Homo sapiens: one gene and its partner. The protein of the gene in region 1 purifies or fractionates together with the protein of each later gene. This does not show direct contact. Each region holds a gene or a part of one and is shown on either strand. Other genes may lie near its edges.

Region 1 (5,566 bases):
TGCACGTGGTCTTGGCGGGGCTGCCGCAGGTGTGAGAACACTCGGGCCCAGACAGAGGCTGAGGGCAGAGCCGGGCACAAGCGTGACTCCCAGGGCCCCGGGACCACCCGCTCCTGGCCTTACCCGAAGCAGGGGGCTGGTCTCCACACTGGCCCGCATGCCCACGGTACTGCCTGTCAGCTTCTTCTCAGCGCTCACCTGCACGAGGGAGAGACAGCCTGGGCCACACCCTGCAGGGGGCCAGCCCCAAGGACCTCAGCCTCAAACACTCGGCCCTCCCTCAGCCAATGCAGGCAGCGGGGGTGGGAGTCAGTGCCACCTGCCTGACCACAGAGGCCTCCCGGCCACAGCAGGGGTGACGCAGGGGCAACTTCCAGATCCCAGCGGGTGGTGGCGCCCGCCGCATGGGAGCGGTTCCTGAGCACTCAACCACGCTTCTGTTCCTTCAGCCCCCGCTGACCCCAGGAGCCAAGCAAAGCCTGGATGGACGCCTTCGCTCCTGCTCCCGGCAGCAGCCCTGACTAGGGACAGAGGCCACCGGGCTGCTGCTCCACCCGCCCCACCCCACTCACCACAAGGATGAGCACGCGGAGTTCAGGCCAGTGTGACTCGGGGGCCACTTGCCGAGCGATGCTGTCCTTCCCGTCGGCCTGCTCTCCCATCTGCCACTCCACAAAGCCCCCATACAGGCTCCGGCAGGCGCTGCCTGAGCCCCGGCGAGCCACTTCTGAGAGGTCACTCTCCACGCCGTAGACACGGGCCAGGGTGTAGGCTGCAGGCATGCGGATTCAGGGAGGGTCCTCAGAGCTGCCTGCGCTGTGCTCCCTGACAGCTCACCGCCCCAGGAACGTCCCACACCCCACGGCAAATGGGGATTTCCAGATGACAGGGCTTCTGGGCCATCAGCCTTTGAGGCCAGCATTCACCGGCCCAGCCGTCTGTCCCCCACCTCCGCTAGTTCCACTCTCGGACACTCTCTGTTCACGGCCTGCAGAGCTTGCGGCCCGCGACAAGGGCAACAAAAGGTACCTGCGGCAGAGCAGGAAGCCCCATGGAAGGCGGGAGAAAGGCCCCCGAGGACACCCAAGCTGGGCTTTGAGGGTGGGAAGGAATTTTAAGGCTGTGTGGGGCAGGGACCGATGCCAGGACAGAGCTGGACTCCACAAGACGCGCCCCCTGCCCACCCAGCACGGGAGCCACCTTCTCCCCTCCTCCCACAGGGCTCCAGCAGGGCAACCCCACCTCCAGGTCTGGTCACCCACCCTGGTCACCGAGGGTGGTTCAGGGAAGGCGCAGGAGCCCAGGTGGGCCAGGAAGCGTCACCCCTGGAGTTGAGGGGTGAAGATGGTGTGAGACCACCACCGGGGGGACAGGCTCTGACAGTGGGTGGGAAGCTGCCAGCAAGTGGCCTGGGGCCAGCAGAGAGCTGGGTCCAGCGGGGCCTGCAACCAGCTGTGCCCATTGGAATCCTCAGTTACGTGAGCCACAAAATCATCGCTATTTTAGGGCTGAGCCAGTTTGAAGTGGTTTCTATCACTGACAATCTAGAGGGGCTCCACATACAGCAACGGGAAGATTTTTTTATTTTTTGTAGAGATGGGGGGGGGTCTCACTATGTTGCCCAGGCTGGTCTTGAACTCCTGGCCTACAGTGCTTCTCCCCCATCAGCCTCTTAAGTACTGGGATTACAGGCGAGAGCCCCACGCCAGCTGCAACTGGAAGATGAAAATGTTCAGATGTGCTCTGGGAAGAGACTGAACAACTCCAGAGAGGCCAGGGAGGCCTGGGGTGAGGGGATGCTCTTTTAGCCACGCCCAGCAGTGGGCTCCCTGACCCGGGAAGAGCATGAAGTGGCTCCTGCGCCCACAGCCCAGAACCCCTGCGGGTCTCTGTGGGCACCCACCTAGGCAGGCATAGCCCGCCGCTGAGGAGGCCAGGCCCGCAGCCGTGGGGAAGTTGTTCACCGATGCCACGTGCACCTTGCAGCTGAGGCTGGAGGGCAGCGGGTCCCCATCCCGTGAGTTCCTCCGCTTCCGGGCCAGGCAGCGGACTGCAGAGACAATGAGACAGCGTGTGGCCCAGCCGTCAGCACCCTGCCCGCCCTGCTCCTGCCCACCTGCCCGGGGTCACAGCTGAACACCAGGCCTCTGCCTGCCAGACTCCTCGTGGAGAGTTTCTTACCCGGGAAAACCCCAGACTGACCCAAGCCCAGCTGGTCATTGAGGTGGGCCACTGCCCTGGAGCTGGCGGCCCAGCGGGCATGTCTGGTTCCCAGCCACCCCGCCTGCTGCCTCAGGAGGGGCACAGAGGCAGAAGCACTTTCTGGATGCTCGGACCCTGCTGACAACAGGGAGGGATGGGCTTATGGGGACCCCAGCTCACTCTCCCGCAGGCAGGCCTGCAGCCGCGGCTGCCCCACATCCTCCTCCCGGCCATTCAGCCAAATCCGGTCCTCGGTGAAGTCCTTGCTGATGACGGCTGTTGTGGTGGTTTTTAACTGAAAAGGAAACCCAGGGCCACCTCAGAGGCCAGCATTGAGGACCGATGCCAGCCAGGTACCCCTTTCTACTGAGAGAGCCTCATGGCTGCCCACTCGAGCAAGGTCAGCCCTGCTGAGGGCAGGGGGGGAAAGGCCAGTCTCAGCTGGGCAGTGGGGAAGCCCGTGGGGGATGAAAGCGTGGGCCACACCTTGTGGAGCAACCAGGCCTTATCCTGAATAAAGAGACGGGGACTCCCAGGGGAGCCCCTGGGGCACGGTGTGCGCATGTGTGACGAGACCTGGGGGCACATGTGTGCTGTGCTCAGCTCTCCTAATACTGGGAGATGGAACAGACACTGCGTGCTGGCTGGGAGTCGTCGCTAGGCCATCTCATCCTAGCCTTTAGGTAAAAAAGTACCAATTTTTTTTTTGTTTCAGAGACAGGGTCTCACTCTGTCACCCAGGCTGGAGTGCAGTGGTGCGATCATGGTTCACTGTGGTCTCCAATGCCTGGGCTCAAGAGACTCTCCCCAAGTGCTGGGATTGCAGATGTGAGCCACCATACCCAACGGGTACCAACTGTTCTACAAATGTTCTGGAAATGGCACTGTGGTGTTTAGTCGTCAGTCCACACATACCTGGTCCTGGTGCAGAGTGACGCTCAGGGAGGAGTTGATGGGCAGAACCAGCTCTTCATCGCGCTTGCCCCCTGTAATGAACAGCCAGGGCCAGGCCGGTGGGCTTCCCGGCCCACCCTCCCCCAGTGTTCCCCACAGGTGCCCCCACCCCCCACCCACGGCCCCCATCCGCCTCAGTCCCGTCTCTCACCGCACAACCTGTGTGCCCCTCCTCCTGCCAGACCCCGGCCTGCAAGAACTGCTCCCACCCCACTGAGCTCAGGCTCCCAGAGCAGAGCTGGAGGCCAGCCAACCTCCGTCCCCGCTCCCCATTCCTTCATCGCTTCTACTCCAGCATCCGTGAGTGCCCAGGTGCGGATCGCTCCCACCGCGGCCTGCCTCCCCTCCACCTTCCCAAACAAAAGGAGCCCAGCTCTGAGAACTCCTCACATCTCACTGCTCATATGCCCCAGGAACATCCAGGATAAACCCCTTTCTGCCCAGCACGGCCATGGGACAGCACGTGAAATCAAACTTCCAGAAAGCCCGAAAGGAAACGTTTGCCCTGGGAGCGCTGCGTGGTGCTTCAGCTGAAGTCTTATTCCACGGCGGCTTCGCTAAGCACACCATCTGCTCGGTTTTGTGCGAGGGGAGGTCTCTGAGGATGGCGGACAGTTCCAGGGGTGATAAACGCGGACACCTGGCAGAGAACCACGCCCTGCAGCTCGCGAGGCTCTTTCACGCACAGCACTGAGCGGCCCCCCTTGCAGGCGGACGCCGCTGCCCTGACAGGCCGGGCGAACCTCTGCTTTCAGGAAGGTGGGCCAGGGGACTTCTCCCGCTTCCTCCCACTGGGGACAACTGAGACCCTGGACATCACAGGTGAGACTCTCACGGGTGACAGAGGGCGGCTGTGGGACAGTGCAGGGGGAGCCCGGGGCTTTCTTTTCTGCTTGCCCTAGACCTAGCCCTGCAGAAGCTGGAACTGCCAACCAAAGCCAGCCCTCCCTAGCAGGACCAGGAAGGGCAGCCTAGCAACACAGAAACAGACTCCTGGCCGGGCGCGGTGGCTCACGCCTGTAATCCCAGCACTTTGGGAGGTCGAGGTGGGCAGATCACCTGAGGTCGGGAGTTTGAGACCAACCTGACCAATATGGTGAAACCCCATCTCTACTAAAAATACAAAAATTAGCCAGGCTGTAGTGACGCACGCCTGTTATCCCAGCTACTCAGGAGGCTGAGGCGGGAAAATCGCTTGAACCTGGGAGGCGGAGGTTGCACTGAGCCGAGATGGCACCACTGCACTCCAGCCTTACTCCAGCCTGGCAACAGAGGGAGACCCTTTCTCAAAAAAAAAAAAAAAGAAAAGAAAAAAAGAAACAGATCCCTCCCACACTCCAGGCTGGAACAGTGCCCCGCCCCCTTTCCCTCCCTGAAGGAGTGGGGACTTTCACCTCCCCAGGAGTCATTGGAGAGCACACGGGAGACTGGACTCCCCTGACCTGCCGGCTCTTGTCAGAGGCCAAGCAGACACTCAGGAATTCCTGAGGGCCTGGTGGGGATGGGACAGCGTTGGTGGGGAGGGGAACCTGGACTTCTGCCTCCTTATCTTGAGCCAGCACCCCCTCCTCCACCAGCGCGCTATCAAAAACCAGCTCAAACGTAAGGTTTAAAGAAGACCAGAGTCTCTGAACGTTACAAGAAAATGGACACGTTTCCATAAATATCACTGTTGGTGAGCCTCAGTGGCTCACACCTACGATCCCAGCACTTTGGGAGGCCGAAGCAGGCAGATCACTTGAGGTCAGGAGTTTAAGACCAGCCTGGCCAATATGGCAAAACCCCGTCTCCACTAAAAGTACAAAAATTAGCCAGGTGTGGTGGCGCACACCTGTAGTCCCAGCTACTCGAGAGGCTGAGGCAGGAGAATCGGTTGAACCCGGGAAGCGGAGGTTGCAGTGAGCCGAGATCACGCCATTGCACTCCAGCCTGGGTGTCGCAGTGACAGTCTGTCTCAAAAAAATAAATATAAAAGTAATACAAATAAATATAAAAATATAAATATAAAATAAATAAATATAAAAAATAAAAATAAAAGGCCAGACGCGGTGGCTCACACCTGTAATCCCAGCACTTTGGGAGGCTGAGGTGGGCAGATCACGAGGTCAGGAGCTTCAGACCAGCCTGGCTAACACGGTGAAACCCCATCTCTACTAAAAATACAAAAATTAGCCAAGTGTGGTGGCACGTGCATGTAGTCCCAAATACTCAGAAGACTAAGGCAGGAGAATTGCTTGAACCCAGGAGGCGGAGGTTACAGTGAGCCAAGATTGTGCCACTGCACTCCAGCCTGGGTGACAGAGCAAGACTCTGTCTCAAAAAAAAAAAAAAAAAAAAAAAAAATAGCAGAAGAGAAAATCCAGAAATAGACCCACACAAACATGCCCAGCTGATTTTTTTTTTTACAAAA
Region 2 (4,533 bases), on another chromosome or scaffold:
AAGCTAATCTTTGCACTGGCTGAGAAAGAGTTTTCTGGAAAAGACAGATGAGTTTCAGGAGAACCCTAGACCTTCCAGCAATGACAGCAGATGGTTGTCTCCCAGCAGCCTGTGTGGCCAGGGCCAGGCTCAGCCAATGCTCCAACCCATGGAAGCCACCAGCCATCACCACGCTACAATCCAGCTCCCAATCTCACCTCCTGGAAGAATCTCACCTCTCCAGGCCTTGGGCTTTGTCCTTTTTCCTTCTTACTGTGACTTGGCCATGGAATGGAAGCTGTCTCTGTAGCAGGGGGTGGGAGGCTGCTGCATGCGGATGGTGTGAACTCAGGGCTCCCCCCAGGGGCTGACGGAGCCTCTCCGCTTCTGCTTCTCAGGCCAACATTGGCCAGAAGGAAGACTTCGAGGAAGCCAGGAAGAAGGCACTGAAGCTTGGGGCCAAAAAGGTACCAGGCGGGAGGCAGGGATTTGGGCTGGGAGTGGGGCGGTGATGTGGAGGGCAGTGGTGGATGCTCCTGCCCCAGGGATCCCATCCCTTCCAGTGTGTCTTCTTGCTTCTAAGAGTATGAGATCATCCTGCTCTCAGGTGTGTGAACCCTCTTGTTTTTCTGCCTCCCCCACGCCCTCTTCCACCCACCCACCTTCCCATCCAGGTGGAGTGTCTCTTCCCCACCCACATACCTTCCCTTCTCTTTTATCTCTCTGTCCATCTATGCACCCACTCACCCTCTTTTATCTCTGTTTATCTACTCGTCCACATATCCATCCATCATTCATCCCTCCATTAGCTATCCATCGATCCATCCATCCATCCATTCAGCCATCCATCCATCCATCACCCACCCATCCATTCACCCATCATCCATCCATCCATCCATCCATCACCCACCCATCCATTCACCCATCATCCATCCATCCATCCATTCATCCATTCATCCATCATCCATCCACCCATCCATCCATCACCCATCCACTCATCCACCCATCCATTATCCATCCATCCATTCATCCATCCATCCATCATCCATCTATCCATCTATCCATCCATCCTCCGTCCATTCATCCATCATCCATCCATCCATTCACCCATCATCCATCCATCCATCATCCATCCATTCATCCATCATCCATCCATCCATCCATTCACCCATCATCCATTCATCCAGCCATCATCCGTCTATCCATCCATCATCCATTTATTCATCCATCATCCATCCATCCATCCATCATTCTTCATCCTTCCATGCATCATCCATTCATCCATCCATCATCTACCCATGCATCCATCCATCATCCATCCGTCTATTCATCCATCCATTCATCCATCCATCATCTATCCATCCATCCCATTATCCATTCACCCATCCATCCCTTCATTATCCATCCATCCATCCACATATCCATCTGTCATTAATCCCTCCACTGTCTATCCATCCATTCATCCAGACAGCCAGCCATTCATCTATCCATCCCCCATCCATCCATCCATCCTTCATCCATTCACCGTTTTTCTATCCATCCATTCATCCATCCATCCATCTGTCATCCATCATCCATCCTTCTGTCCATCATCCCCCTACCTGTCCTTCCCTCTTTTATCTCTCTGTCTACCCATTCTTCCATTCATTCAACAGAATCAGAGAACTCCAATTGAGTCTGGTGCCTTGATTGTGAATCTAGGCATGTGGCAGGCAGACCCCTGTCCCATACAGGGCATTTATGATGAACAGTGTCATCAGGACCCCTGCTCACATGTGCTCACTCCCCATGGAGAAGCCCTTGCCACTTGTGCCCCTTCATTTGGGAGAGTGAGCAGGGGACATAGCAGGGATGATGTGCAAGGCCACCAGCCCACCTGCAGGGTCAGAGCTGATCCCCTCTGTGGGGTGCTTCTGCAGGGTTGCCAGGGTAATTAGCATGTTAAAATGAACACGGGAGGGAGTGGATGCCCCAGTCCCAAGTCACCTACTGGCCACAGGCCTGGAACTAGAATGTCCCTCCTTGGTTCTGTGCCTCCCGAGTGCTGGAGAGCAGAGGGGTTGTCTGAGCAGTAGTCCAGGAAGGGGAGAAAGAGCCCTGAGTGTTGAAGATTCGAGTGCGCTTTCAGCAGCGCAGGAGCAGGCTTTGTGCACGGCTTCAGCTTTTGTCCTTTATTCTAGATGAGCAGTTCTCAAAACTTGTGGTCTTGGGAATCCTCTACACTCTAATTTACGTGGCGTTTTTAATGTTTATTTTCTTGCATATAACATTAGGATGGGCCAGGCACAGTGGCTCACGCCTGTAATCCCAGCACTTTGGCAGGCTGAGGCAGGCAGATCACCTGAGGTCAGGAGTTCAAGACCAGCCTGGCCAACATGGTGAAACCCTGTCTCTACTAAAAATACAAAAATTAGCTGGGCGCGATGGTGGGTGCCTGTAATCCCAGATGCTCGGGAGGCTGAGGCAGGAGAGTCGCTTGAACCCAGGAGGCGGAGGTTGCAGTAAGCTGAAATCACACCATTGCACTCCATCCTGGGCAACAACAGCAAAACTCTGTAAAAAAAACCAACCAACCAACCAAACAAACACAAAAACACATTTATCCTAATGTTTTTTATATATCCTTAGTCCCAATTGCTTTCTTTTCTATGCCTTTTTATTTCATTTTTTAAAAGGATTTTTTTCAAAATAATTATAGACACAGGAAGTTGCAAAAGCAGTACCAAGAATTTCTCGACTCTTAAAAATTATTGAAGGCCTTGGCTGGGTGCGGTGGCTCACGCTTGTAATCCTAGCACTTTGGGAGGCTGAAGTGGGCAGATCTCTTGAGGTCAGGAGTTTGAGACCAGCCTGGCCAACCAGCCTAGTTTCTTTAGTAGAGAAACCCCACATGCCTGTAGTCCCAGCCACTCGGGAGGCTGAGGCAGGAGAATCACTTGAACCCGGAAGGCAGAGGTTACAGTGAGCCAAGATTGCACCTCTGCACTCCAGTCTGGATGACAGAGAGTCCATCTCAAAAAAATAAAAATTACTGAAGGCCTTAGAGAGCTTTTGTGGATTACATCTGTTGATATTTATCACATTAGAAATAAAAGCTGAAATGTTTTAAATGAACAGTTCATGTTAACATAAGTAACATTACACTTATGAAAAATAACTATTTTCTCAAACAAAAAATTTTAGTTAAGAATCTTATTGGCTTCCATTTTTGCAAATCTCTGTAATGTCTGGCTTGACAGAAAACAGATGGACTCTTGTAGCGGTTTTCTGCATTCACTTGTTTTTTCGTTTGTTTGTTTGTTTTTCTTTTTTAGCCTCCCAGGGCTTCCTCGCTATGTGATGCCTTGTTTTATTGAAGTTTATGAAGAAAACTGGGCAACACAGTGAGATCCCATCTCTACAAAAAATAAAAAACTTAGCCGGGCGTGGTAGCACATGCCCGTAGTCCCAGCTACTCAAGAGGCTGAGGTGGGAGGATTGCTTGAACCCAGGAGGTTGAGGCTGCAGTGAGCTAGGATCACACCACTGCACTCCAGTCTGGATGACAGAGAAAGACCCTGTCTCAAAAAAACAAAAAAAAAGTTTTCACTCAGTGTCTCCCTGAAAAGTCATTGGGAACCCCTGGGGGTCTACATTTCAAGAACCATTCCTCTGGATCGGGGTTTCTCAGTCTTGGCCTTGTTCCCGTGTGGCTGGCCGTCCTGTGCACGGGAGGATTTTAGCAGTATCCCCATAGCCTTTACCCACTAGATGCCAGAATTCCACCCCCCACCTGGTAGTTGTGGCAACCAAAAATATCTCCAGATACTTCCAAATGCCTCCCCTACTCCCACCCCCAACAGGGACAAAACCGTCTCTGGTTGGGAACTACTGCTGTGAGATCTTAGGTGACAACTAAGTTTCATCTTGTTGGGGCTGATTTAGAAGCCACATCCAGTTTCACAGAACGGTGCATCAGGATTGATTAGCAGGCTGGCCGCGGTGGCTTGTGCCTGTAATCCCAGCACTTTGGGAGGCCGAGGCAGCTGGATCACCTGAGGTCAGGGGTTCAAGACCAACCTGGCCAACATGGTGAAACCCCGTCTCTACCAAAAATACAAAAATTAGCAAGCCATGGTGGCATGCGCCTGTAATCCCAGCTACTCAAGAGGCTGAGGCAGGGGAGTTGCTTGAACCTGGGAGACGGAGGTTGCAGTGAGTTGAGACTGAGCCACTGCACTCCAACCTGGGCAACAGAGCAAGACTTCGACTCAAAAAAAAAAAAAAAAAGAGAGCTATTGATTAGCAATGTCTGCCATGAGTGCAGGAGGGAGAGTAACAGTGCAGTGTGCTGGGATTGATGAATGATGTCTACTACAGATGCAGAAGAAGAAGCACCAGGTACAGCGGGGGTGGCCCCGTATAGGTCTCAGCTAGCTGAGGCCCCTGGGGCTCTGTATGCCAGATGGCCCCTGTCCTTGCCTACTTCTTCCTTCTGGGCTCCTCTTCCCGTAGGTGTTCATTGAGGATGTCAGCAGGGAGTTTGTGGAGGAGTTCATCTGGCCGGCCATCCAG

The links.
Region 2: the proteins of MVD (region 1) and ASS1 fractionate together in Homo sapiens (co-fractionation; one large-scale study listed by BioGRID). This does not show direct contact.

Annotation. Positions count from the first base shown.
Region 1 is NC_000016.10:88,655,533-88,661,098, forward strand, and holds part of MVD (diphosphomevalonate decarboxylase), read right to left. Parts: intron 5,106-5,566; exon of another isoform or gene 4,988-5,105; intron 3,189-4,987; coding exon 3,118-3,188; intron 2,498-3,117; coding exon 2,383-2,497; intron 2,051-2,382; coding exon 1,904-2,050; intron 1,716-1,903; coding exon of another isoform or gene 1,614-1,715; intron 773-1,613; coding exon 573-772; intron 199-572; coding exon 124-198; intron 1-123. UniProt on the Homo sapiens protein: Catalyzes the ATP dependent decarboxylation of (R)-5-diphosphomevalonate to form isopentenyl diphosphate (IPP).
Region 2 is NC_000009.12:130,453,928-130,458,460, forward strand, and holds part of ASS1 (argininosuccinate synthase), read left to right. Parts: intron 1-377; coding exon 378-446; intron 447-4,473; coding exon 4,474-4,533. UniProt on the Homo sapiens protein: One of the enzymes of the urea cycle, the metabolic pathway transforming neurotoxic amonia produced by protein catabolism into inocuous urea in the liver of ureotelic animals.